Linked DNA regions of Homo sapiens. The protein of the gene in region 1 interacts with the protein of each later gene in a biochemical or structural test. Each region holds a gene or a part of one and is shown on either strand. Other genes may lie near its edges.

Evidence for each region.
Region 2: the proteins of VEGFA (region 1) and IGFBP7 form a complex in vitro, tested with the Homo sapiens proteins (one study listed by BioGRID).

The regions. Positions count from the first base shown.
Region 1 is NC_000006.12:43,773,091-43,776,735, forward strand, and holds part of VEGFA (vascular endothelial growth factor A, long form), read left to right. Parts: intron 1-1,250; coding exon 1,251-1,302; intron 1,303-3,645.
Region 2 is NC_000004.12:57,108,255-57,111,999, reverse strand, and holds the start of IGFBP7 (insulin-like growth factor-binding protein 7 isoform 1 precursor), read left to right. Parts: upstream 1-1,614; 5' UTR 1,615-1,648; coding exon 1,649-2,123; exon of another isoform or gene 2,124-2,238; intron 2,239-3,745. UniProt on the Homo sapiens protein: Binds IGF1 and IGF2 with a relatively low affinity. Stimulates prostacyclin (PGI2) production. Stimulates cell adhesion. Acts as a ligand for CD93 to play a role in angiogenesis.

The sequences.
Region 1 (3,645 bases):
CCCTGCAGGAGCCGCAGTGGTAAGCTGTCCAGCTGGAAGCCTGGTAACTGTTGTTTTCTCTTGAGAGGGGCTTCCTGTGACCTTGGCTGTCTCTGGGAGCAGGGCTGGGGTACCTGAGTGGGGTGCATTTGGGGTGTGTGGGAAGGAGAGGGAAAGAAAGATGGACAGTGGGACTCTCCCCTAGCAGGGTCTGGTGTTCCGTAGGCTAGAGTGCCCCTCTGCTCTGCGAGTGCTGGGCGGGAGGGGAGTTGGTGAGAGCTGGAGACCCCCAGGAAGGGCTGGCAGAAGCCTTTCCTTTTGGGTGCTGTCAGGTCCGCATGTCTTGGCGTGTTGACCTTCACAGCTTCTGGCGAGGGGAGGAATGATCTGATGCGGGTGGGGAGGGTTAGAGGAGGCCTCAGGCCTAAGGTGGTGCAGGGGGCCCCCTAGGGGCTGGGCAGTGCCAAGGCATAAAAGCCTTCCCTGGTCCCTGGTGGCATTTGAAGGTGCCCAGGTGAGAGGGGCTTGGCACCTCCTCACCCTGGGAGGGAGAAGAAACCAGGGAACAGGTAGGAGTGGGAGACAGGTGAGGCTTTGGAAATCTATTGAGGCTCTGGAGAGATTTGTGTAGAGAGGAAAATGTGGTTCTCCCCCAGGGTCTCCTCCTGGGTTTTTACCCTCTAAGCAACCTGTGGGCATGCTGGGTTATTCCTAAGGACTAGAAGAGCTTGGATGGGGGAGGGTGGTTGGTGCCCTTCGGTCCTCGGCACCCCCCTCCGTCTCCAACACCAGCTCACCCTGGTATTTGTCATGTCAGCAGGAGAAGGTCACCATGTTGTTTTTCTCGCCCCTAGTCCTTCCTTCCTGCCCCAGTCCAAATTTGTCCTCCTATTTGACCTTAATACTTACCATGGCTTTGGACCAGGGAACTAGGGGGATAGTGAGAGCAGGGAGAGGGAAGTGTGGGGAAGGTACAGGGGACCTCGACAGTGAAGCATTCTGGGGTTTTCCTCCTGCATTTCGAGCTCCCCAGCCCCCAACATCTGGTTAGTCTTTAACTTCCTCGGGTTCATAACCATAGCAGTCCAGGAGTGGTGGGCATATTCTGTGCCCGTGGGGACCCCCGGTTGTGTCCTGTTCGACTCAGAAGACTTGGAGAAGCCAGAGGCTGTTGGTGGGAGGGAAGTGAGGAGGGAGGAGGGGCTGGGTGGCTGGGCCTGTGCACCCCAGCCCCTGCCCATGCCCATGCCTTGCTCTCTTTCTGTCCTCAGTGGTCCCAGGCTGCACCCATGGCAGAAGGAGGAGGGCAGAATCATCACGAAGGTGAGTCCCCCTGGCTGTTGGATGGGGTTCCCTGTCCTCTCAGGGGATGGGTGGATGGCCTAATTCCTTTTTCTTCAGAACTGTGGGGAGGAAGGGGAAGGGGCACAGGAATATAAGGATCAAGAAAGAAAGAGCTGGGCACCACGAGGTTCACCCTCAGTTTCGTGAGGACTCTCCGCTGTTCAGGTCTCTGCTAGAAGTAGGACTTGTTGCCTTTTTCTTCTGCTCTTTCCAGTAAAATTTTATTTGGAGAAGGAGTCGTGCGCACAGAGCAGGAAGACAGTGTTCAGGGATCCTAGGTGTTGGGGGAAGTGTCCCTTGTTTCCCCTAGCTCCCAGGGGAGAGTGGACATTTAGTGTCATTTCCTATATAGACATGTCCCATTTGTGGGAACTGTGACCCTTCCTGTGTGAGCTGGAGGCACAGAGGGCTCAGCCTAATGGGATCTCTCCTCCCTTCCCTGGTTTGCATTCCTTTGGGGGTGGAGAAAACCCCATTTGACTATGTTCGGGTGCTGTGAACTTCCCTCCCAGGCCAGCAGAGGGCTGGCTGTAGCTCCCAGGCGCCCCGCCCCCCTGCCCAACCCCGAGTCCGCCTGCCTTTTGTTCCGTTGTGGTTTGGATCCTCCCATTTCTCTGGGGACACCCTGGCTCTCCCCACCACTGACTGTGGCCTGTGCTCTCCACCTCTGGGGAGGGAAGGCCCTGGGGTCTTCCTTCCCGCGAGTTTCCCTGACCTAAATCTGGCGTGGCTGGGTAGTGGCCAGCAGTGGTGATGCCCAGCCTGTTCTGCCTCCTCCTTCCCCACCCCAGGAGCCCTTTCCTTGGCCTAGGACCTGGCTTCTCAGCCACTGACCGGCCCCCTGCTTCCAGTGCGCCACTTACCCCTTCCAGCTTCCCAGTGGTCTCTGGTCTGGGAGAGGCAGGACAAAGGTCTTTGTTTGCTGGAGAAAAGGTTGTCTGCGATAAATAAGGAAAACCACGAAAGCCTGGTTGTTGGAGTGTACGTGTGTGCTCCCCCAGGCAGTGGAGGCCAGCCCTCCTTGGAGGGGCGGCTGCCTGATGAAGGATGCGGGTGAGGTTCCCCGCCTCCACCTCCCATGGGACTTGGGGATTCATTCCAAGGGGAAGCTTTTTGGGGGAATTCCTACCCCAGGTCTTTTTACCCTCAGTTACCAACCCCTTGCCCAGGCCAGACCTTCCTGCTATCCCCTCCTGGGCCACAAGCCTGGCCCTCCTCTGTCCCAATTGTGATGAAGGGGCAGTTCAAAACTTCTTGATTAGTCATCTTCTCCCCTATCGACTTGGCTTTAAAAAATGACCTTTTCAGACTTCTAGTCTCGTTCACTCTTTTTGATGATGCTTTGCCGTAACCCTTCGTGGGTAGAGAAGGATTCTGTGCCCATTGGTGGTCTGGATAAAAGAAATAGAGACCTCACAGGAAGCAGTGGACTGGCCTGTTTCCCCACTGTTCTTTCTGTTTTCACACCTGTGGCCTTCTCCCCACCTTCTTCCCAATCAACCTATTGTGTACATAGCCCCCCTCATTGTCCTTTATTCTTCTGGAAAGCAGACCTTGGAGGGAGGAGTGAGGGGGAGGCTCAGCTGTGGTCTCTGGGGGGTGGGGGTTGGGAGCTGGGGTGGAAGTCCACGAAGCATACACTTAAGATGCTTTGGTGAAGTTCTAAACTTCATATTACCCAGGCTGAAAAAAGAGCACTTGTTCCTAGGGCTGGAAATGGAAGCCAAAACACCACCTTTTTCAGCCTGTTTCAGCATCTTTAGAGATCAGCCCAACCCACTTACACAGTTGAGCAGAGTTGGAGGCCTAGAGAGGGGAGGGACTGGCCCAAGGTCATACCAACTCATGGCCAGAGCCTGGGCCTCCTCACTGGCCAGGTGTTATTTCTTCCCTCTGGGTAGGGAACCTATTTCAGGGACAGGATTGCTATGTGGTAGTGGTGGTGGGGTGCGATAGGCGTGGCAGGCTGGGCCACAATTTGGAGTAGTCATGCCAGAGTCCTGCATTTATTTATTCTCAAGGGCCCCGCCTCTGTGGCCCAGAATTACCCCTTCATGCTCCAGTGCACCCCAGGCTTCGTGGCCAGCCTGGGAAACTGTCTCTACCCTGGTCTCCCTTCAGATCAGCTTCTAGAAATGTTTCGTGGCTACAGTGGCAGCACTGTTTTTTCCATGATGCAAGCAGTTTGCCCTCTTGGGCGGGGTTATCAGTGGCTGGCAGGGCTGGCACAGCGTGTCCGCCCACTGCCACCTGTGGGTTCCAGGAGGGCCCAGCCCCTGTGCTGATGCCCACCACCTTCTCAGCTCATGTCTGGGGAAGAGG
Region 2 (3,745 bases), on another chromosome or scaffold:
ATTGTTTGAAGCTGGGAGGCAGAGGTTGCAGTGAGCCAAAATCTCACCACTGCACTCCAGACTAGGCGACACAGGGAGACTTCATCTCAAAAAAATAAAAAAAAGAAAAAGAAAGAAAAGAAAAGAAAGAAAGAAAGAAATTAAATACAATAGGAAATAGAGTGCACTCTGCATTTGTTTCCTTTTCAAGAAAACAAATGGGTCATGTAAACTGCATCTCTTAGGATGGAACAAAGACAAAAATATTTAGGGAAACTCTGCTGTAAAGATTTTTCATTGTTTTTTAAACAACTGTCAGGTCAACATATGACCTTTGAGGGGAAAAAAAATGCTCCACTTGTCTATAATACACTAAGGAGAGGCCAAAAAGCAGTGCTAGGTTTTTCTGGATTGGAGGATGTTTCCCCACTCTCCACCCCCCGATTTTGTGGTCATTTAATTTTCAAAAAATTTGCAATAATTATCCTTGTAAGAGTCTGTTGAGAATGAGTTCTTTACACTGCTAATGGGATTATGAACTGAACTGCTGGCTTTCAGTCAGCAACCCTGTAAATCCCTGGATTTATGCTAAGAAAAAAGAACACAAAAGAACCACAATGTGACATGCAGAATAATGCACGCTGCAATGTTACACATTCAGTTAAAAAGTGAAAGCAACTTCCATGTCTGCATTGGAGAGGCCAGTGTTCCTGGGAAGAGAGGCTTTCAAGTTGAGTTTGCAGAGCACTTCGCAGAAAGACTGAGGAAGAGTCCACCGTTTATATCAAAAACCTCCTGGAATGCTGGTGAAGACTGGGGGCGCTTTAGGTGCCTCCGTGGCAGCTCCAACGAGGAAGGAGCTGGGACCCCTGCTCCTCTCAGCTGCGCTCTGTTCTCCCGAGAGGCTTGCTGGAGGGCGAGCAGTTCAGCAAGAACTCAAAACAAGGGCACAGCTCTCACACGGATTCCAGTACTCACTGAAAACGGCTCAGCACAAAAAAAGCACAGAGTCTTGTTGAATGCCACTGGGAGACAAAGCGGGGAGGGAGGTGCAGGCAGTTAAGAGGTTCCAGAAAGGGAAGTGGTTGGCAACGGTTTGTCCTTTTAGTGCTTGACACCCAAGACCACAGCAGGCCTGTGGCCAGCGGGGACACAGTCCACAAGTGGGGGTTTTTAACAGCTTGTTCTTAAGAGAGCTTCCCAAACCACAGAGTAATGAGCACTCAGGTGTCTCAGGCCCACGGAGGATTTAATAGATGAAACCCTGGATCGTCTCGAAGCCGTGGTTGTTAAGAAGTTTAAATATATTGACCGGAAACGGGGAGAAACCAGAGGGTGGAAGAGCCGCTCGCACTGCGGTGCGATCCCTGAGGGCTCGGGGCAGGGGACTGGGGACCGAGCAGGAGCTGGCGGGGTGAGCTCTGCGAAGCGGGCGTGAGACCGAGCGCCCATGGGCCGGTCACGCCGGGTGCCCGCTCACCCCCCGACGCCAGCAGGAGCGCGCGCGCAGGCCCCGCGGGGCCGGGAGGGCGGCACGGGCGGGGCCCCCGTGCTCTCACCGCCCCGGGGTGTGGTTCCCGCGGACAGGCCGGGCGGGGCGGCGGGTTTAAGGCGCCGGCCGGCCCGACACGGCTCACTCGCGCCCTTGCCGCTGCCACCGCACCCCGCCATGGAGCGGCCGTCGCTGCGCGCCCTGCTCCTCGGCGCCGCTGGGCTGCTGCTCCTGCTCCTGCCCCTCTCCTCTTCCTCCTCTTCGGACACCTGCGGCCCCTGCGAGCCGGCCTCCTGCCCGCCCCTGCCCCCGCTGGGCTGCCTGCTGGGCGAGACCCGCGACGCGTGCGGCTGCTGCCCTATGTGCGCCCGCGGCGAGGGCGAGCCGTGCGGGGGTGGCGGCGCCGGCAGGGGGTACTGCGCGCCGGGCATGGAGTGCGTGAAGAGCCGCAAGAGGCGGAAGGGTAAAGCCGGGGCAGCAGCCGGCGGTCCGGGTGTAAGCGGCGTGTGCGTGTGCAAGAGCCGCTACCCGGTGTGCGGCAGCGACGGCACCACCTACCCGAGCGGCTGCCAGCTGCGCGCCGCCAGCCAGAGGGCCGAGAGCCGCGGGGAGAAGGCCATCACCCAGGTCAGCAAGGGCACCTGCGAGCAAGGTGGGCACGAGCGCTTCCCTCTCCAACCCTGCGCCGCTCGGCCCAGCGAAGGGCACATCCGACGGGGCGTCCGCGGCGGCCTCGCCCCGCGCTGCTCACTGCGATTCCCCCGCGGGCATCCCAGGAGCCAGATGGGAGGGAAAGAGTTGGCAGCCGCGGAATGCCAGGAGCGGTGGGCGACGCCCCCCCTTCTCCTTTTTGGTGGTTTTATTTTGAGAGTTTGCTGCGTGCGTCCAGAAAGTGAGGGCCGGGTGTATATGTAGAAAAGATTTTCCGAGACCTCAGACTTCCCCATGCCCAAAGCGCACCCAACTCGTGCTAACATCTGTCCATTTCTCATCATTCTTGGCTTGGGGATGTAGAGAGAGGTGAAGTCAAGAGATGGGGGAAAGGAGTTTGACAATTAAATATAAAGTAAGGACTTCCAGACAGACTTTTTTTTTTAAAAGATAGGATCTTGCTCTGTCGCCCAGGGTGGAGGGCAGTGGCACGATCTTGGCCCACTGCAACCTCTGCCTCAAGCGATCCTCCTGCCTCAGCCTCCCAAGTAGCTGGGACTATAAGCCTGTGCCACCACGCCTGGCCAATTTTTGGTTTTTTGTTTTGTTTTGTTTTGTTTTATAGCGACGGAGTTTCACTATGTTGCCTAGGCTGGTCTCGAACTCCTGAGCTCAAGTAATCCCGGCCTGCTGGGATTACAGGCATAAACCACCGTGCACAGCCCTGATTTCTTAGTATTGAAGAAAATAGTCCACTTTCTAAAAATTATAGGTTCTCAAACAGTAATCTAACTAGCTAATTATTTGTGGGCAAAAATAAAATACAAACTCTTTGAAGACTGTTTTTGTGATGCACTTTGTTGTCAACCTTCTGACCATTTTGTTTTTCCTTCCTATTTCTTTGATTTGTATTGTTTTGCATAATTTGTCCCCAGGATACACTGTTCAGCAGAAATGTCTTTGAGATTATGTTTGATTGTTTATTTTATTCCAAACAAGTCCAAGCTTGCTGTAAATGAAATAAGGAAATAGGCCGGGTGGGTTGGCTCACGTCTGTAATCCCAGCACTTTGGGAGGCCAAGATGGGCAGATCACGAGGTCAGGAGTTCGAGATCAGCCTGACCAACACGGTGAAACCCCATCTCTAATAAAAAATATATATATATACATTAGCTGGGCATGGTGGTGCATGCCTGTAATCACAGCTACTCAGGAGGCTGAGGCAGGAGAATCGCTTGAATCTGGGAGGCGGAGGTTGCAGTGAGCCGAGATCACATGACAGCACTCCAGCCTGGGTGACAGACAGAGACCCCATCTCAAAAAAAAAAGAAAGAAAGAAGAAAATAAAGTCTGGACTTGCAAATACACGCACATACACACACACATAGAAATTTTAACTCTAATGCCTGAAATAACATTTTCCATTGGCAGTATTTTCAAGGGAAAGTCAGACATTCAATGTTGGCAGCTCCTGATCTTAGCCAAGGTAGAAAAGGGAGAGGAGGCAGTTCTGAGGTTACAGAAGCTGTTGCTTCTTTAACACAGTTCAGACTTTCTCCAGAATTTCCAAATTCTTTCTTTAGAGCTTTTCCCAGAAGTCCACAAACTAATAGGTTGTATGTC